Regions from separate parts of the Homo sapiens genome. Here region 2 is linked to region 1. The links come from fine-mapping of genetic effects on gene expression. A gene starts in region 1. The other region holds a variant in brackets. All regions are shown on one strand. Distances are between the middles of the regions. Region 1 holds the start of FEZ1 (fasciculation and elongation protein zeta 1). Region 2 has its middle 36 kb from the start of EI24.

Region 1 (10,972 bases):
AAACTAATAAAACATCAATAGAGACCTTCCAATAAATGCCTGAGTTGTTTTTGTTTCGTTTCGCTTTTGAGACATAGCTTCACTCTGTGGCCCAGGCTGGAGTGCAGTGGTGTGATCTCAGCTCACTGCAACCTACACCTCTGGGTTCCACCAATCCTCATGCCTTGGCCTCCCAAGTAGCTGCGTGTGCCACCACACCCAGCTAATTTTTGTATTATTAGTAGAGATGGGGTTTCACCATGTTGGCCAGGCTGGTCTCGAACTCCTGACCTCAGGTGATCTACCTGCCTCAGCCTCCCAAAGTTCTGGGATTACAGGCATGAGCCACCGTGCCCAGACAAGCACCCAAGGTTTTCCCACACATAGAGCATATGCCTAGGAGCAGAGGAATAGACTAAATGATCTATTATCCTGTATCCTGTAAGAAACAGACCCAACTACCCATGTGCTCCAAAGCCATACTCCATAACCATCTTGGGCACTGCACCCTGGAACGCTGCACACACAGAACTCCCTTCAGTTCCCACCAACTGTGGGACCTCTACCCCTCATCGGGCCATCTTCATGCACTGCTTCCAACTGTGATTTATCCATCTGTGTGTACATCTGGGCCCCATTCAATTTTAACTTAAATTCCTCGAGGACACAGAAATCCTCTGGATATCTTCCCTGGCTCCAAATATACACTGCCTACCCTGTGGCTAGGCAGTCAATCAATATGTGCTCGTTGAAAAAATGATCTATCTCCCACATACAGTTTTCCATTTTCAGTTTCAGGCAGCACAAGCATTGCTGACTATCATACCCTTCTCTACACGCTCAACAGAAAGGCTACCAAGCTTTTCTCTTCGGTCTATAGGGTTATTGATATAGTTAGGTGCTCAAATTGGAGGCGCTTCCTGAGGGGAACCAGACAGCAAAATTCATGGATTTTGCCCTAGGAGTGCCCATTCTCCATCTCTACCTACAAAACTAAAACTCTAAATAAGCAAGGCAAAGGACATGCCAGGCAAGAACACTGCCAGTTTGTACCGGGATTTTGCTGGGATTAAGTTGATTACCGTTGCTTTAAAACATATTTGGAGCATTTACAGTTTGCAAAGGCAACATGATAGGACCTTTGAATACAAAAATATATACAAGTAGTACCATATCTTGGAAAGAAGACAGGCTCGAGAGCCAACAGATCTGCCAATGGCTGGCTGAGTGACAAGCATCATTGGTCCTGATTTCCTCATTTGTTATAAGGAAGGTGTTGGTACAGAGTTAACATCTTTAGGAGTTATTTTTAATAAATCAATAATTTAATTAATCATTTTGATTGAAGTAATATGTTTATTTAATCCAATATATCCAAAGTGTTACCATTTCAAAATGTAATCCACAAAAAAACTAATGAGGCAGTTTTTATTCTTTTTTTATACTAAGCCCTTTGAAATCCAGTGTATATTTTCCATTTACAGTACATCTCACTTTGGACTAGCCACATTGCAAGTGCTCAACAGTCAAATGTGGCCTGTGGCTACCGCAAGGGACAACACAGCTCTAAAGCAAACACAAGTAATTGCCAGTCAGGGGTTCTTCATCTTCAGTACATAGACCCCTGCAGGCTCTTTGAAGGTAACTATATTTCAATGAAATTGGTTTCCTTTACAAGACTAAGTATTTTATTTTATGCATTTAAAAACATTATTTGGAGAAGGAGCCCACAGGCTTCTCCATACCACCAAAGGAGGTCATAGTGCAAAAAAGATTAAGAATCCCTGAGCAACAAAAAAGTGAGATTAGAAAAGATGGCAGAATGCAGTAGAGAGTAAAACAGTTTTCACAGCCCAGGGATTTGTGTTGATTAAGGCAGTACTCTGTGATGGCTAAGAGCATAGGCTTTGGGTTCCTGTCCTGGTCCTGTCACTCCTAGTTGGGAGACTTTGGGCAAGTTATCAACCTCACTGTGCCTCAATTTCATCATCTATAAAATGGAGTTTAAAACAGTGCTTCCCTTGAAGATTACTTTTTGGACTAAATGAGATCATCTTTGAAGTGTTAAGTACAATGTGCAGAATATAGAAAGCATCCAATAAATATCAATCATTCTAGAAAAATCAAAGCTGGGCACGGTGGCTCACACCTGTAATCCCAGCAACTGGAGAGGCTGAGGCAGGAGGATTGGTTGAGCCCATGAGTTTGAGGCTATAGTGAGCTATGATCACACTACTGTATGCCAGCCTGGGTGACAAAGTGAGACCCTATCTTTAAAAAAAAAAAAAAAAAAGTTAAAAATAATTCTAGGAAAACCAGGATAGCTAACTTACATAGAAATGTGATGTGGGGGCTGGGCACAGTGGCTCATGCCTGTAATCCCAGCACTTTGGGAGGCTGAGGTGCGTGGATCACCTGAGGTCAGGAGTTCAAGACCAGCCTGGCCAACATGGCAAAACCCTGTCTCTACTAAAAATACAAAAAAAAAAAATTAGCTGAGCATGGTGGCAGGTGCCTGTAATCCCAGCTACTTGGGAGGCTGAGGCAGGAGAATCGCTTGAGCCCAAGAGGCAGAGGTTGCAGTGAGCCGAGATCATGCCATTGCACTCCAGCCTGGGCAACAAGAGCGAAACTCCATCTCAAGAAAGAAAGAAAGAAAGAAAGAGAGAAAAGAAAGAAAGAAAGAAAGAAAGAAAGAAAGAAAGAAAGAAAGAAAGAAAGAAAGAAAGAAGGAAAGAAGGAAAGAAGGAAAGAAGGAAAGAAGGAAAGAAGGAAAGAAGGAAAGAAGGAAAGAAGGAAAGAAAGAAAGAAAGAGAGAAAGAAAGAAAGAAAGAAAGAAAGAAAGAAAGAAAGAAAGAAAGGTGATGTGGGAGTGCTTCAAGTAAAAGAAAAATTATCCCTGCCATGATATTCTCTGTGCAATGCTTCAATATGCTTATCAAACAAGAGAACTATTGCTGAAAGAATTTTAGCATCTTTTTTACTAAGGCTTCTTTTTTCAATTTATTTGTTCAAAGGTTCCTGGATCGTGGGTTCCATTTTACAGAGATATGAAAGCCAATCCGATAGTGTTGCAGGTATTTACACTGCCTTTAAATTTGTACTTTTCTCTGGGAATGACAGGGGAGAAGCAGATGGTGACACCAGTGGGGTTTCTGATTTGAAATGACACAGTCTATATGATTAACCAGCAACAAGAGGCCAATCCAACCAGAATCTAGGACTAAGACTGAGTTTTGAGTGTTGGCAACAGGAAGAGTGTGCTGAAAGCACTCTGCCCAGGCAGAGTGTAGAGAAAATGGATTCATCTAGAAAATTATAAAAGACGAAATGAATATCACAGCTCTAGGGTTCAGACACATGCTCATTTGAAACAGTCCATAATATAGACTGATTGTTTTTTGTCAACTCATTATCCAAGAGCCAAGAAGTGCTGCATGAATGACCATCTGGAGATGAAGTTAAAGTGAAAGCCAGTGCTGGGAAACTAGTCACTCAACACCCAAACTGAATCCAGCATTTGTGGAAAGACCTCAGGCTGTGGCACAGATGAGAGTCAGGCGTTCTGACTGGCCCCACTATAGCCTCCAGGAGGGCTCTGTGGATTGGGGTTGGCAGCACTTCCTTAGATGGTGACCCTGCCTTCCTTCCTTTAGCCCACTTTCTTTCGCCCTCCTCTCTTCACGGAGTGCTTTCATCCTTCAACTAAAATGTCTGAAACAACCTTATTTTCCATCCTGGCAAGCTTGCACCATCCTCATTCATAGCTCATCTGGGAGCCTTCTTTTCCTTAAAGTAGGATTAATACAAGCGATAGCTTATTCCCTTTAGACTTCCAAGATCAAAAATAAATACGTACATACATGAAAATGGCAGAAAGAAGGAACCATGGGAGGGTCGCCTTTTCTTTTTCTCTTTACCACAGAACAGAGCGCAGGACTATAGTCTGATTGTCCTACAATCTATTCCATTTATTTTCACTCCCAATAGATGGTGTAATTTGGAAAAGAAAAGACACTCACGGGGCTTAACAGAGACCCAGTAGGAAACGCATAAACGTCTCCCTGCAGCACAATGATGCACTCGCTGCATCTCGGGGCTGCGGTACAAATGCTCAGTCCCTGCTTTGCTGAGCTGACCCGAGTGGAGCGGAGCGGTGGAGATTTCACCACGCTAACCCCGCTGGGCCTCGGCACCTCCACACAAGCCCCATTCCATCTCCTTCTTCCCATCACTTGGTCCATAGATCAACTGATTCCGTGCCTCGTCCCCCATATCCGTCCCTAAAACCTACCCTGCACTGATCCACCTTCAGATTTCCCACTGCTCCTCCGCAGAACCCACCCAGTGTGCATGTTTGTGCACATTTTGACAGAAAAAGTATTTCGTTGCATATGGATCAGCAACCCCTTCGCGGTTCTGCTTGCTCCCCTCCCCCTCCTCCCGCTGCTCCATTCACCTCCATCTCAGATCCCCCTCCTCCCCCCAGTCCGGTGGGGTAAAGAAAGCCTCCTCCAGGCAGCACAATGGCTGGCACTCTGAGGAAGCCGGACTCATCCCGTGCAGGCCGCATACACACTCCACTGCCCTTCCGGCCAAACAAGCCCGGACACGGGAGAGGGATGAGAGTCGGGGATGCCTAGCGGCGAGGAGAGAAGGGATAGGCAAAAGGGAAGAAGAGCGGGCTGTGATACCTCCTCGACGCCGTCAAACACTGCTCCCCGCATTCCAGAGCCCGGGGCCCACCCGACGGCAGCGCGCCCCGCCACCGCGCAGCCGCCCCGGTCCCTTCTCCCGCCCGTCTGTAGTAAAACAATCGCTCTCCCGGCGTCTGCGGCCGCTGCCAGCGGTTCTGACACTGCAGGAATGCGCGGTCTGGGGAAGGCTCCGCACTCTGGGGAGGGGCACGAGCGGGGTCGGGGGTAAGTTTTTAGGGACAAAGATGATCTTGGGGCGTTTACGGTGACTGGACCAGATAACGGTCCCGGGACGAGGTACCGACCCACTGCCCCAGCGCGATCGGGCGGCGTTCCCTTCTTCCCCCAGCCCCCATACCTCGCCGCCCTGCCTTCACACGCGCGCACACACGCGGGCACACACACGCGGACACACACACACACACACACACACACACACACACACCAGGCCTGGCTGGAGGGCCGATGCTGAGATGATACTGGAAGTGCCCATCATCCCACATCTCCAGGGCCTGGCGCGGCGTCCCAGCTGCGCTCCCTGAAGGGCTGGGCAGGAAGGCGACGGCCTCCCGTTGTTCCTTTCTAATCCCAGAATGGGACCAGGTGAGGGGAGCTGCGGCGACCCCAGACCGTCCTGTCAGAGAATCCCGGGGCCTCCTTACCACCCCCACCAGACCCCACCCCCAGCAGTGAGTCGGGTCCTAACTAAAGTCAACCCCCGCGACGGCACCTGTGCGGGTCCTGGCGGAGGGAGGCGGATCCCGGGGCTCAGCCGGACACCCCCATCCACGGGCCGCGGGAGCGGCCGGAGCGCAGCGCAGCGCAGCGGAGAGCCAGCCAGCCAGCCAGCCAGCGAGCGCTCCCCGCGCAGCTCCGGCGGCGCCCGGCTCCGCTCCCGCCTCCACCCCACCCCTTCCCCGCGCTCGTGCCCGGGCTCCGGGGGCGCGCCCGCGCTCGGGCACCCACCCAACTGGCACGCGCGGGAGCTGGACGTCATCCCCTCGTTAACATTCATAGCCTTCCTCCGAGCACGTGGGCTTGCCTTTATTAATATTTATGCATTTCTGTTTCTCTCCTCTTTAACATTGGCCTTTCTGCTTCCCTCATGAATATTCAGAAACTCCAAGATGAAAGCGTGCAATAACTACCAATATGGATACCTCGCAAAGCCTGACACTAGTTTCTGGATAAAATGCAGGCGATGGCTGCTGGCGGATGCCGGCAGACACACTCAAAGACCCTTTTGGACTTTCCGAGTTTCCCATTCTCCTCTACTGGAGGCTGAGGCGGGCAGGCCCAGCGACGTCTCCCAGCTCCAACTGGGTTCGGACCTCAAGCCAAAAATGAGGAGGCCGGCAGGAGAGCTTTTCTCGCCCAAAGATGCTGGGTGGGAGCTGGATCCAGCTGAAAAATCTGAGTGAGAAGGTTTCAGGCCCAGGAGGACTTGAGATAATACAGGAAAATTCAAGAGGCTGAAATGAGAAGGGTCCCTGGAGTCTTGTGAAAAATTATTAATTTATCTTGTCTACTGTGCATAGGCCTGTGCTTATAGAAGTTGTCAATAAAAAATCTAATAATTCACGAATACACACAACTAAGAGCACAAGAACTGTAATTATCGAAGGAAGGCACTGGAAAAAGCATGTCGGCTTGGAGAACCCCAAGTACTTTTGTCTGATGGCAAAGTACCTCTGGGCTGAACTGAGGACTTCAACTGGAAGGGGCAGGGAGCGTCTCTTTTGCTCGTTTATGCATTCATTCCACAGACATTTCAACCATGAGAAGGATGGAAACAGGAATAATGTCCCAATGAGATGAGAAGAAGCGTTGGCCTATTTGCCTTTGTGGGAGCAATAGACAGAGGATGTCTTCCTGTAAGAAATCATAAGGCCAGGCACGGTGGCTCACACCTATAATCCCAACATGTTGGAAAGCTGAGGCAGGAGGATCACTTGAGGCCAGGAGTTCAAGACCAGCCTAGGCAACATAGTGAGACCCCATCTCTATAAAAAAAAAAAAATTAGCCAGGCATGGTGGGCCCATCCTGGTAGCCCATCCTGGTAGCCCCAGCTACACTGGAGGATGAGGTGGGAGGATCGCTTGAGCCCAAGAGGTTGAAGCTGCACTCCAGCCTGGGCGACAGCAAGACCTTGTCTCAAAAGTAAATAAATAAATAAATAAATCACAAAGAGTAGCTGGTTAAAAGATCCCTAGATCTCCTTTCTTGGGATCATGCCCAGTTTTGTGACCTTGGGTTAGTTAACTTCCCTGTGGCTCATTTCCTCATCTGTAAAATGAAGAAAATAATAGTGCCCGCCGGGCGCGGTGGCTCACGCCTGTAATCCCAGCACTTTGGGAGGCCGAGGCGGGCGGATCACGAGGTCAGGAGATCGAGACCATCCTGGCTAACACGGTGAAACCCCATCTCCACCAAAAATACAAAAAATCAGCTGTGCGTGGTGGCGGGCGCCTGTAGTCCCAATTACTCGGGAGGCTGAGAATGGCGTGCACCCAGGAGGCGGAGCTTGGAGTGAGCCGAGATTGCGCCACTGCACTCCAGCCTGGGTGACAGAGCGAGACTCCGACTCAAAAAAAAAAAAAAGAAAGAAAATAATAGTGCCCCACTCTATTGTGGCCTGTTGTGGGATTAAAGGAGTGAATATGAGTAAAGTACTTCCAGGTTTATTAGAAGGCACTATATGTATGTATGTGTGTATATATATACACACACACATATATATGTCATATATATGTCTCATATAGATGTCCCATATATACGTCTCATATAGATGTCCCATATATATGTCTCATATAGATGTCCCATATATGTCTCATATAGATGTCCCACATATATGTCTCATATAGATGTCCCACATATATGTCTCATATAGATGTCCCACATGTATGTCTCATATAGATGTCCCACATGTATGTCTCATATAGATGTCCCACATGTATGTCTCATATAGATGTCCCACATGTATGTCTCATATAGATGTCCCACATGTATGTCTCATATAGATGTCCCACATGTATGTCTCATATAGATGTCCCACATGTATGTCTCATATAGATGTCCCATATATATGTCTCATATAGATGTCCTATATATGTGTGTGTGTATATATATATGTGTGTGTGTATATATATGTGTGTGTGTGTATATATATATGTGTATATATATGTATATATATATATGTCTTGGCTAATTTGAGGCCATCTTTTGTCTAGATCTTCAGAGCATGGGACAAACAGATTTGAGAGAAGCTTGTGAAGTACTGAAAGTGATAAAGAACTTGGTCTTCAGCTGGTGACCTTGTTAGTTATCCTCTCTGTACCTCAGTTTTCTCATCTGTAAAATGGAGATGCCAATATCTGCTGTTGGATGCCAATATCTACTACAAGGTTGTTGTTATGCATATTAAGTAATATAATGCATGCAAAATGCTTAGCACAGTGCCTGGCATATAATAAGAAACCAATTAGTGGATTCTGTGGTTATTTTTGTGAGGCTATGAAGAAACTGAAAGCTGAGGACAAGTAGCCTAGGCTAGGTACCTAGGATGAGAAATCCCTGAACATGAGCCCAGTTATTCTTCCAGCAAACACTTATTTTATTGTAGTAAGATATATATAACATAAAAATTACTATTTTAACCATTTTTAAGTGTACAATTCACTGGTATTAAACACATTCACATTGCTGTGTAACCACCACCACTATTCATCTACAGAAATTTTGTTATCCAAACAGAAACTCTGTATCCATTAAACACTAACTCCCCAGTACTCCCTTCCCCAGCCCCTGGTAACCACTATTCTAATTTTGTCTCTAAGAATTTGACTATTCTAAGTACCTCATGTAAGTGTAATTATACAATATTTGTTTTTTGTATCTGACTTATTTCACTTAGCACAATGTTTTCAAGGTTAATCTATGTTGCAACAATGTCAGAATTTCTTTTCTTTTTAAGGTAAATAATATTCCATGGTATGTATATACTACATTTTGTTTATCTATTCATCTGCCCATGGACATTTGGATTGTTTCCACCTTTTGGCTATTGTGAATAATGCTACTAATCTGTCATGGGATTAGAGTGAGAAAGAAAGAATAAAAAAATAATGCTGCTGTCAACATCGGTGTACAAATTCCAGCAAGCATTGGTTGCATTCCATGACCTAGGCTAGAAGCTGGGGAGCTAAAAATGAAGGCATGCTTTCAAGAGGTTCCATGTTTAGTATGTTGATTTCCAAACTCTGCTGCTTAGAACCTGCAGTGGATTGAATGGTATTTTCCTAAAATTTGTGTCTACTCAGAACCTCAGAATGTGACTTTTACAGATGTAATCAGTTATGATGAGGTCATACTAGATTCGGGTAGGCCCTAAATCCAATGACTGGTGTCCTTATAAGAAGAGGAGAGGAGGCTGGGCATGGTGGCTCACACCTGTAATCCTAGCACTTTGGGAGGTGAGTAGATCAACTGTGGTCAGGAGTTCGAGACCAGCCTGGACAACATGGCGAAACCCCATCTCTACTAAAAATTAAAAAAAAAAAAAAATTAGCAGGGTGTGGTGTCACATACCTATAATCCCAGCTACCTGGGAGGCTGAGGAAGGAGAATCGCTAGAACCGGGGAGGCGCAGGTTGCAGTGAGCTGAGATCATGCCACTGTACTCCAGCCCAGGTGACAAAGCAAGACTATGTCAAAAACAAAAACAAAAAATACAAGAGGAGAGCATGCATAGGAAAGGAGGCAGAGATTGGAGTAATTCAGGTACAAGCCAAATGACACCAAGGATTGCCAGGAACCACCCAAAGCTAGAATGAGGCAAGAAAAGATTCTTCCCCAGGACCTTCAGTAGGTAGCATGGCCCTGCTGACAGCTTGATTTTGGACTTCCAGCCTCTAGAACCATGAAACCATAAATTTCTATTTAAAGATCATTTGTCGTGGCAGGCCTAGGAAACTAGTACAAATTTTGGTAGTAGAAAGTGGGATGCTGCTGTAACAAATATTTAAAAATGTGGAAGTGCCTTTGGAACATCGTAATGCAAAGAGGCTGGAAGAAGTTTGAGACACATGACAGAAAAAGCCTATATTGCCCCAAAGAGACTGTTGGTATAATTATGAATATTAAGGGCAATTCTAGTGAGGCTTCAGAAATGAGGAGACTGTAGAGAAAGTTTCTACGGTCATAGAGAATACATATATTATTATAACAAATAGGAATATGAATGTTAAAGGTGATTCTGGTAAGGTCTAAGATGGAAATGAGGAACTGTTGTTAGAAACTGAACAAAAGACAAACTGTGTTATAGAGTGGCAGAGAACTTGGCTGAATTTTGTCCTGCTCTTGGAAGGCAAGTAGAACTTGTAAGCGATGAACTTGTATATTTAGCTGAGATTTCCAGGCAAAGTGTAGGAGATTTGGCCAGGTTTCTCCTTGCTGCTTATAGTAAAATGCAAGAAGGAATGATGGTGTGGATCCCTTTCACTCCTAAGTAGCAAGTTACACAGGAGACCAACATGGTTTCTGAGAATTTTATACCAACAGAAACACTGTCAGCCTGGAATGAAAAGGACGGAGATGAAATGAAGGACAAGTCTTAGACCTCTGAAATTCCACAGGCAGAAAATAGGCTGATGTACGTTCTTGGCAGCAAACATGGGTTATCCTTCAAGAAAAAGAAAGAATGACTCTTAGGATGGGGCCCACTGCCCTGGATCCAGAGGATGGAGCATCGAACCATAAGGGATTTTTCTCAGGCCTCGAAACCTAATGGAACTTCCCCTGCTGTTCTACAAGCTTGCTTTGGACTAATGACCCCCTGTTTTCCTTCCATTTTCTCTCTTTCAAAAATGTTTTTTTAATTTTTTTTGTAGAAATGGGGTCTCACTATGTTGCCCAGGCTGGTCTCAAACTCTTGGCCTCAAGGGATCCTCCCACCTCAGCCTCCCAAAGGACTAAGATTATAGGCAAGAGCCACTGTGCCCAGCCCTCATTTTCTCCCTTCTGCAAGGGGAATGTCCATCCAATGTCTGCTCTACCACTCTATTTTGGAAACAAATCATTTGATTTCTAATTTCATAGGTCCACAATGGGAGAGGAATTTTGCCCCAGAATGTATCACACCTAGAGTTTCACCCATACCTGATTTAAATGATGAGATTTGGAACTTTTAGATTTTATATTTGTAATAGATGAGATTTAGATTTAGAGCTAATGCTGGAATGGGTTAAACCTTAGGAAAGTTGGGATGTGACCAGGTACTGTGGCTCACGCCTGTAAT
Region 2 (10,972 bases), 37 kb after region 1:
TGAAACCCCGTCTCTACTAAAAATACAAAAAATTAGCCAGGCATGGTGGCAGGTGCCTGTAGTTCCAGCTACTTGGGAGGCTGAGGCAGGAGAATGGTGGGAACCCAGGAGGCGGAGCTTGCAGTGAACCGAGATCGCGCCACTGCACTCCAGTTTGGGTGACAGAGCGAGACTCCATCTCAAAAAAATAAAGGAGTCATACAATATTTGTCCTTTTGTGTCTGGCTTCTTTCATTTAGCAAAATATTTTCAAGGCTTATTCATATTGTAGCATGGATCAGAATTTCTTTTCCAATTCCTTTGAGGCTTTATGGGATACTGTGAAATATATATTTGGTTTTTGTCCCTGTCTCCTGTCATACAACTCCTAATATCCTTGGAACCTCCAAAGACATCAGTGTCTTTATGTATACTAATGAGTTGACTGGTGACTGGCAGGCCCTGGGTAACTTCGGGATGGGGGCTGGTCACTGCAAAGACCAAAGCATCATTAGAGGGTTGGGACTTTCAACCTCACCCCCAAACCTCTGGGAAGGGGTGGGGGTTGAAGGTCAAGTTGATCACTCACGGCCAATGATTTAATCAATCATGCCTACACAATGAAGCTTCGATAAAAACCCAGAACAGGTGGCTTCGGGGATGTTCTGGATAGCTAAATGCATGAAGGTTCCTGGAGGGTGCCATACCCAGAGAGGGCATGGAAGCACCATGTGCCTTCCCTCATAACTCACCGTATGTATCCCTTTATCTGTAACCTTTGTAATGTCTTTTACAATAAACTAGTAAATGTGTTTCCCTGAGTTCTGTGAGCTGCTTTAGCAAATAAATCAAACCCATTGAGAGTGTTTTAGGAAGCCCAATGTATTGTTGACTGGTCAGAAGCACGAGTAAAACAATATGGAGCTTACAATTGGCATCAGAAGTAGTGGGCAGTCTTGCGGGACTGAGCCCTCAACCGGTGGGATCTAATGCCATCTCCAGGTAAACAGCGTCAGAATTGAATTGAATTAGAGGATACTCAGCTGGTGTCAGCTGAAGACCCTGCTGCAGAACTAATTGATTGGTTGTTGGTGGGGAGAAATCTCCATTCATTTCTTGGTGATGAGAGATCACAGAAGTCTTTTATGGTATGATGTGAGAGCAGATGTGAAAACAGCAGATGAGAAAACAGTTTGCTTTTTCTACAGGCTGTAATTTCTTTAATAATATTAAAGGCTTTGGGCAGGCACGGTGGCTCACATCTATAACCTCAGCACTTTGGGAGGCTGAGGCAGGAAAAATGCTTGAGGCCAGAAGTTCAAAACCAGCCTGGTCAACATAGAAAAACCCCGTCTCTACAAAAGAAAAATTTAAAAATTAGCTGGAGGTGGTGGTGCACACCTCTAGTCCCAGCTACTCAGGAGGCTGAGGTGGTGGATTGCCTAAGCCGAGGAGGTCAACGCTCCAGTGAGCCATGATTCTTCCACTACACTCCAGTCTGTTTGACAGAGCAAGACTCTGTCTCTAAAAAAAAAAATAATAAAAAATAAAAATAAATTAAAGGCTTTAATTCCTTGAATAATATCCTATTGCTTGTATGTGCCACATTTCATCTCTCTATTCATCGTTAGTGGACACTTGGGTTGTTTCCACATTTTGGCTGTTGTGAATAATGCTGCTACTATGAACAGACACAAATATCTGTTTGAATTCTTACCTTCACTTTTTTTGGGTATACACCTAAAAGTAGAATTGCTGGATCATAGGGTAATTCTATGTTTAATTTTTTGAGGAGGCACCATAGTGTTTTCTACAATAGCTTCTCCATTTTACCTTCCCACCAGCAATGTACATGGGTTCCAATTTCTCCACATCCATGTCAATGCTTGTCATTTTCTGTTTTGTTTTTGTTGTTGTCATTGTTGTTTATCTATATAGTAGCCATCCTAATGGGAGTGAAGTGGTAACTCATTGTGGTTTCAATTTGCATTTCTCTAATAATTAGTAGTGTTGAGCATCTTTTCATGTGTTTATTGGTCATTACTGAAGAAATGTCTATTCAAGTCATTTGACCGTTTTTTACTCTGGTTGTTTGTTTTTTGTTGTTACGTTGGGAGAGTTCTTTATGTATTCTGGATAGTAACCCCTTACCAGACACATGATTTGCAAATATTTTCTCTCATTCCATAGGTTGTCTTTTCTGTTGATAGTGTCCTTTGATGCACAAGTCTTAAATTATCATGTAGTTCAATGTATCTATTTTTTTTTTTTTGAGACAGTCTTGCTCTGTTGCCCAGGCTGGAGTGCAGTGGTGTGATCTCGGCTCACTGCAAGCTCCACCTTCCGGGTTCATGCCATTCTCCTGCCTCAGCCTCCCGCGTAGCTGGGACTGCAGGTGCCCGCCACTATGCCTGGCTAATTTTTTTGTATTTTTTTTAATAGAGATTGGGTAATTTATCTATTTTTGTTGTTGCTGCCTGTGCTTTTCATGTCTTATCTAAAAAATTATTGTAGAATCCTATGTCATGAAGTTTTTAGTTTATGTTTTCTTCTTAGGGTTTTATAGTTTGAACTCTTAAATTTAGGTATTTGTTTCACTTTGACTTTTTTTTTTTTCTTTTTGAGACAGGGTCTCATTCTGTCAACCAGGCTGGAGAGCAGTGGCACAAACTCAGCTCACTGCAACCTCCGCCTCCCTGGCTCAAGTGATCTTCCCACCTCAGCCGCAAGAGTTGCTGGGACTACAGGTGAACACCACCATGCCTGGCTAATTTGTGTGTGTGTGTGTGTGTGTGTGTGTGTGTGTGTGTGTGGAGATGGAGTTTCGCCATGTTTCCCAGGATGGTCTCGAGTTCCTGAGCTCAAGCCATCCACCCGCCTCAGCCTACCAAATTTCTGGGATTACAGGTGTGAGCCACTCCACCTGGCCTGACTTAATTTCTGTATATGGTGTAAAGTAGAGGTCCAGCTTCATTCTTTTGCATGTGGATATTCAGTTTTCCCAGCCTCATGTGTTGAAAAGACTGTTCTTACCCCATTGAATGGTCTTGGTACCTTGTTGAAAATCATCTGACTTTACATGCAAGGTTTATTTTCAGACTCTATTTTATTCCATTGGTCTATATATCTGTCTTTATGCTAGTACCATGAGAAGTCACTTTTTTTTTTTTTTTTTTTGAGATGATGTCTCGCTCTGTTGCCCAGGCTGGAGTACAGTGGCGCGATCTCAGCTAATTTTTGTAGTTTTAGTAGAGACGGGGTTTCACCATGTTGGCCAGGCTGGTCTCAAACTCCTGACCTCAGGTGATCCGCACACCTTGGCCTCCCAAAGTGCTGGGATTACAGGCATGAGCCACTGCGCCCGGCCTAATTTTTTTTTCTTAAGACAGGATCTCGCTCTGTCACCCAGGTTGGAGTGCAATGGAGTGATCTCGGCTCACTGCAACCTCTGCTTCCTGGGTTCAAGCAATTCTCCTGCCTCAGCCTCCCGGGTAGCTGGGACCACAGGCATGCGCCACCACGTCTGGATAATTTGTGTGTGTGTGTGTGTGTGTGTGTGTGTGTGTGTGTGTATTTTTAGTACAGACGGTGTTTCACCATGTTGACCAGGCTGGTCTCGAACTCCTGACCTCAAATGATCTGCCTACATCCACCCGCCTTAGCCTCCCAAAGTGCTGGGATTACAGGCGTGAGACCGTGCCTGGCCTGAGAAGTCAGCTTTTAAAAGAGCCTTTTTTTTACAGATGATAAAACCAAAACAAAGACAGGTTAACTAACTTATCCAAAGATATACATATAGTCAATAATTCAGAGATTTTAACTTAGTAGTCTGACACCAAACCACAGTTTTAACTACTACAAAAGAAAATGTGCCAAGTGTTTAAGCATAGAACTTCACTTGTGCAAAGTTATGAGTATGAATTTTACTGATATGTTTTGTTAAATGAAAGAACAAATATATAAAATAATATTTTAAATATATTTAAAATGTCAACATTATGACTTATACATTATATTATTATTATTTTTGAGACGGAGTCTCACTCTGTCACCCAGACTGGAGTGCAGTGGCGCAATCTCAGCTTACTGCAACCTTTGCCTCCTGGGTTCAAGCAATTCTCCTGTCTCAGTCTCCCGAGTAGCTGGGACTACAGGCGCCCGCCACCACGCCCAGCTAATTTTTTTTTTTTTTTTTGTAGTAGAGATGGGGTTTCACCATATTGGTCTGGCTGGTCTCAAACTCCTGACCTCAGGTGATCCACCCACGTCAGCCTCCCAAAGTGTTGGGATTACAAGCGTGAGCCACTGTGCCCAGCCGACTTATACATTTTAACTTGAATCACAGTATGCCCAAATCTATGTAATAATGATTTATATCGTAAAAAATCCCCACTCCTCACAACATTTTCAGGAAGATAGGTCTGTGTTTCCAATAATCTTCACCTTAACGGCCCATAGGCCCTTCAATTCAATCATATTTATACCTCAACTCATGATCTTTGGACTCCTCTGTTCTATTCTAGTCCATCTTTTCTTTAATTTTTGAAACACAAATCTGATCTCATTCTCTGATTCAAATGTTTTAATGTGAAGGTTAGAAAATGGCTAAATTGAGCTTGCAGAAATATTTTGTTTGACCTTCAGTTTTTCCAACATTGAAAAAATCAGGAGATTTCTTGCAAAAATCCTGATTCCTGGCCTCTCTTGAAGAATTTGGTTGTCTTGCAACATGTCCTGCGTTGCCATATGGCCGCAACTACTTGCATCTCCACCCAGTTAATCTGCTCTGGGGCCTACAAACATCTGACTTTACAGATAATGCTCTAAGGGTTCCTTGGGGCCTGCAGTACTGTCAGGACAAACTGGTTCCTTAGGCAGCAATGAGATTAGTGAACTAAACGTCCACATATCAACCTGAATGATCTTCAAAACACTGCTGAGTGAAAAAAAGTAAGAAACAAGCTGAGACCTATAGCATAATTTATATAAATTAAAAATATATACATATCATAAAAGAGTTCACATTTCACGAGAAGATACTCCAATAAAATGGACATATATCACACACTTGGAACATTTTATAGTTAAGGACACAGAAAGGGAGGGGAGTATACTAGGAACTGAGAAGTGCCATTAACTCAATAAGCTGGAGCTGATATCCCCCAAAAAAGTGGGAAAAAAAGAAGTTAAAAACTTTTTTTTTGAGACAGAATCTTGCTCTGAATGAATAACATATTTTTCATTTTAGACATTGTAGTTTAAGTCTCTAATTCAATTTGGACCTTTAAAAACCTTCCAGTCTATTTAACTTGCT[C/T]ATTTTTTCTCTACCTTATTAAACATATGAAATACAGTTAAAGTAACTCTTTTATGCCTTTAGTTATTATATCATTTGTGTCATTTACAGATCTGTTTCCATTGATTGATTATTCTCATTATATGTCATATTTTCCTGATTTTTCCATGTCTGGGCATTTTTGGTTGAATGTAAGATGCTCTGAATGTTTTCTTGTTGGGAGGTGGATATTTTTATATTTATATACATATTCTTGAGCTTTTTTTCAGGGATACAGTTAACTTGCTTGGAACACTTACTTTCAAGGATGGGGATGATGTTTAAACTTTGTTAGGGAGGACCAGAGCAGCCTTTATTACAAGACTAATTTTTCCCAGTCCTGAGGAAATACTCTTTTAGGAATTATTTTAAACAATATCATTTACTAATTATATATATATATGTATATGTGTGTGTATATCTATGTATATATATGCCAAGTGCAGTGGCTCATCCCTGTAATCCCAGAACTTTGGGAGGCTGAGGCAGGCAGATTGCTTGAGCCCGGGAGTACAAGACCAGCCTGGGCAACATAGTGAAGCTCTGTCTCCACAAAAAATACAAGAATTAGCTGAATATGGTGGCCCATGCCCACAGTCTCAGCAACTCGGGCTGCCAAGGTGGGAGGACTGCTTGAGTCTGGGAGGTAAAGGCTGCAGTCAGCCATTTCATGCCACTGCACTCCAGCCTGGGTGACAGAGTAAGACCCTGTTTAAATAATTATAATTGATGTATAAAATTATTATACATAATTATGATATATATATTTCCTTTCTGGCTTATGGAAATGCAAAATATTCCTAGCTCTTTGAGAAGTTTAGGAATTATTTCCTTGAATCATTTTAGTGTCTCTTCCTCAAACTAAGGTAGTTTCCTCATATGCTTACACTGATGTATACTCAGCTGAAGACATGATCTTGGAGCTTCCACCCCTATCTCTGCACTCTTTCCTCTTCAGCATTCTGCCCTGCAAACTTAAGCCACCTTGCCTCCCAAGACTCCCAATTCCATCTTGTAAATTCAGGGAGACTGCTAGGTTCCACCTGGGTTTCCACTCTCTGTGCTGTATCTTCCATACAGTAAGATGGGGCAGAAGTAGGGATCATCTCATTTGTTTCTCCCATCTCAGGGATCGCTGTCCTCTATCACCTGATGTCCAATATCTGAAAACTATTATTTCATGTATGTTGTCAGGTTTTTGTAGTTGTTTCCTGTAGGAGGGTAAATCTAGTCTCTGTTACTACATCTTGGCCAGAAGAAGAAGATAGCCTCATATATAATTTAATTTGATTCTCAGCATTACTCTGGGGCAGATAATATTATTACAGATGAAGATCTGAAGCTTGGAGAAATTAAATAACCTTTTCTAGAGGCTTGCACAGTATATGATGCATGGGCACTAAAACAACATAAACCAAACCAAACCAAAACGAGAAACACAAAGCCTTCCTGATGGTAAGTAAAAGGGCAAATCAAGGATGATAACAAAAATCCTTTTACTCCAAGCACTTTACCCTTTCTGCATTTATCACTGCCTCAGAGCACTGTTGGACTACCTATGTAGCAAAGACATGGAGGGCTGGTTTAAAGTGTTAATGTCTGTGTTCCATCCCTGATATACTAAATCAAAATCTCTGCTGTCAATCCTTAGAATCTCCATTTCTGATAAATTCCCCACCCCTTGCCTTAAGAAATAGAAAAGACTCCACAGAACTTTTAATTTTATCCTCTCTCAAACCTCTTCAAGAATCTTCCTCTAGGTTATCATCCTGATTTCTTCAACTTTCCTTTGTTTCTGGATCTTTCCTTTTATAAAAATATTCTATTTTCTCCCAGCTTAAAAACAGACTCTTGCAAAACCAAATGTAAAATTCTAAGCCCCCCAACCAGTGGAATGGACCCCTCCTCTTGCTCAAGGGCATTCCAAAGTTAACCTGAAAAACTAGTCCAGGCCATGATGGGAAGGGGGGTTAAATATGCCTCATTGTACCCTCCTCCCTTTGAAATTCAGGGACAACTGACCAACATTAACATTAAGACACAGATCTTAAGACTGTCATCCTAAGACTGACATCAAACAGATTCTTTGTAACGATAAGACACTAAATGCCAAACTGACTCTATTATAGCATCACATAACAGATAGCAGGCCCTGAAAGAAATTGAAGTATTTTACCCTAAAATACATTTCTTTGACACATTTTGAAATGGCCCTGTAAAGCTGTCTCTCACGGGGATATCTGCATTCTGTACAGAATCCTCTTCCCTTTCCAGGTCTTTTTCCTGATCCAGGAGAGAATTAACCAAAAGTCTGGCACCTTTTTAAGTCTGATAAGAAACATTTACAATCTATTATCTCTGAAGCCTGTTGCCTGGGAGCTTCATCTGCATAAAAGGAATATTGATCTCCATGACCTTTTATCCTAACCCAGACACTTCATTCTATTGATTCCAGGTCTATAGATAAACTCTTTCAACCAATTGCCAAACAGAAAATCTTTGAATCCATCTATGACATGGAGGCTTCTTCCAACCCTGTCCCCCACCCCACCACTGCTTCTGCTTCCAGTAATCCTTCTGCTCTGGACCAAACCAACATACATCTTACATATACTGATCGATGCTGTATATGTATATGCAAGACTCCGTCTCAAAAAAAAAAAAGGTTAACAGGGAAATAACTTTAAATAATGACTATCACACACAGTGTTGTGAATAATCTAGATAAACTATTAAATAATCAAGTAAATGTAATGAAATAAATGCTTATAAACAAACTTGCCATATAATTTAGAATCTAAGGTTATTAATTGATATTAAGGATCTGGGTAATTTCCAATCCAATTTAAAAATTACAGAAAACCTTTTTTTTTTTTTTTTTAAGATGGAGTCTCACTCTGTCACCCAGGCTGGAGTGCAGTGGCGTGATCTTGGTTCACTGCAAGCTCCACCTCCTGGGTTTACACCATTCTCCTGCCTCAGCCTCCTGAGTAGCTGGGACTACAGGTGCCCACCACCACGCCCGGCTAATTTTTTTTTTTGCATTTTTAGTAGAGACAGGGTTTCACCACGTTAGCCAGGATGGTTTTGATCTCCTGACCTCGTGATCCACCCACCTCGGCCTCCCAAAGTGCTGGGATTACAGGCGTGAGCCACCATACCTGGCAGAAAACCTTTTTTTAATGTTCTTATAAAAGTTCAATATGGAAGGGAGGAGCCAAGATGGTCGAATAGGAACAGCTCCGGTCTACAGCTCCCAGCGTGAGCGACGCAGAAGACGGGTGATTTCTGCATTTCCATCTGAGGTACCGGGTTCATCTCACTAGGGAGTGCCAGACAGTGGGCGCAGGCCAGTGGGTGCGTGCACCGTGCGTGAGCCGAAGCAGGGCGAGGCATTGCCTCACCTGGGAAGCGCAAGGGGTCAGGGAGTTCCCTTTCCGAGTCAAAGAAAGGGGTGACGGACGCACCTGGAAAATCGGGTCACTCCCACCCGAATATTGCGCTTTTCAGACCGGCTTAAGAAACGGCGCACCACGAGACTATATCCCACACCTGGCTCAGAGGGTCCTACGCCCACGGAGTCTCGCTGATTGCTAGCACGGCAGTCTGAGATCAAACTGCAAGGCAGCAACGAGGCTGGGGGAGGGGCGTCCGCCATTGCCCAGGCTTGCTTAGGTAAACAAAGCAGCCGGGAAGCTCGAACTGGGTGGAGCCCACCACAGCTCAAGGAGGCCTGCCTGCCTCTGTAGGCTCCACCTCTGGGGGCAGGGCACAGACAAACAAAAAGACAGCAGTAACCTCTGCAGACTTAAGTGTCCCTGTCTGACAGCTTTGAAGAGAGCAGTGGTTCTCCCAGCACGCAGCTGGAGATCTGAGAACGGGCAGACTGCCTCCTCAAGTGGGTCCCTGACCCCTGACCCCCGAGCAGCCTAACTGGGAGGAGGCACCCCCCAGCAGGGGCACACTGACACCTCACACGGCAGGGTATTCCAACAGACCTGCAGCTGAGGGTCCTGTCTGTTAGAAGGAAAACTAACAACCAGAAAGGACATCTACACCGAAAATCCATCTGTACAGCACCATCATCAAAGACCAAAAGTAGATAAAACCACAAAGATGGGGAAAAAACAGAACAGAAAAACTGGAAACTCTAAAACGCAGAGCGCCTCTCCTCCTCCAAAGGAACGCAGTTCCTCACCAGCAACAGAACAAAGCTGGATGGAGAATGATTTTGACGAGCTGAGAGAAGAAGGCTTCAGACGATCAAATTACTCTGAGCTATGGGAGGACATTCAAACCAAAGGCAAAGAAGTTGAAAACTTTGAAAAAAATTTAGAAGAATGTATAACTAGAATAACCAATACAGAGAAGTGCTTAAAGGAGCTGATGGAGCTGAAAACCAAGGCTCGAGAACTACGTGAAGAATGCAGAAGCCTCAGGAGCCGATGCGATCAACTGGAAGAAAGGGTATCAGCAATGGAAGATGAAATGAATGAAATGAAGCGAGAAGGGAAGTTTAGAGAAAAAAGAATAAAAAGAAATGAGCAAAGCCTCCAAGAAATATGGGACTATGTGAAAAGACCAAATCTACGTCTGATTGGTGTACCTGAAAGTGATGTGGAGAATGGAACCAAGCTGGAAAACACTCTGCAGGATATTATCCAGGAGAACTTCCCCAATCTAGCAAGGCAGGCCAACGTTCAGATTCAGGAAATACAGAGAACGCCACAAAGATACTCCTCGAGAAGAGCAACTCCAAGACACATAATTGTCAGATTCACCAAAGTTGAAATGAAGGAAAAAATGTTAAGGGCAGCCAGAGAGAAAGGTCAGGTTACCCGCAAAGGAAAGCCCATCAGACTAACAGCGGATCTCTCGGCAGAAACCCTACAAGCCAGAAGAGAGTGGGGGCCAATATTCAACATTCTTAAAGAAAAGAATTTTCAACCCAGAATTTCATATTCAGCCAAACTAAGCTTCATAAGTGAAGGAGAAATAAAATACTTTATAGACAAGCAAATGCTGAGAGATTTTGTCACCACCAGGCCTGCCCTAAAAGAGCTCCTGAAGGAAGCGCTAAACATGGAAAGGAACAACTGGTACCAGCCGCTGCAAAATCATGCCAAAATGTAAAGACCATCGAGACTAGGAAGAAACTGCATCAACTAATGAGCAAAATCACCAGCTAACATCATAATGACAGGATCAAATTCACACATAACAATATTAACTTTAAATATAAATGGACTAAATTCTGCAATTAAAAGACACAGACTGGCAAGTTGGATAAAGAGTCAAGACCCATCAGTGTGCTGTATTCAGGAAACCCATCTCACGTGCAGAGACACACATAGGCTCAAAATAAAAGGATGGAGGAAGATCTACCAAGCCAATGGAAAACAAAAAAAGGCAGGGGTTGCAATCCTAGTCTCTGATAAAACAGACTTTAAACCAACAAAGATCAAAAGAGACAAAGAAGGCCATTACATAATGGTAAAGGGATCAATTCAACAAGAGGAGCTAACTATCCTAAATATTTATGCACCCAATACAGGAGCACCCAGATTCATAAAGCAAGTCCTCAGTGACCTACAAAGAGACTTAGACTCCCACACATTAATAATGGGAGACTTTAACACCCCACTGTCAACATTAGACAGA

Evidence for each region.
Region 2: its variant is fine-mapped to the expression of FEZ1 in whole blood (TOPMed, PIP above 0.99).

What each region holds. Positions count from the first base shown.
Region 1 is chr11:125,490,715-125,501,686 of GRCh38, forward strand. It overlaps FEZ1 (fasciculation and elongation protein zeta 1), which reads right to left and starts at 5,551. Exons shown (of 10, transcript NM_005103.5): 1 at 5,407-5,551. LOC403312 (putative uncharacterized protein MGC39545) reads left to right here and starts at 4,500. Exons shown (of 2, transcript NR_164146.1): 1 at 4,500-4,901; 2 at 5,794-8,812. RefSeq lists enhancers at 3,603-4,106, 4,609-5,112, 5,113-5,614 and a silencer at 5,489-5,738.
Region 2 is chr11:125,528,090-125,539,061 of GRCh38, forward strand. No RefSeq gene overlaps it. Among named protein-coding and RNA genes, the nearest start is that of EI24, 36 kb to the right of the region's middle. RefSeq lists a cis regulatory region at 4,582-5,055 and a silencer at 6,144-6,438. The variant C/T (reference allele first, on the strand shown) is at 5,294.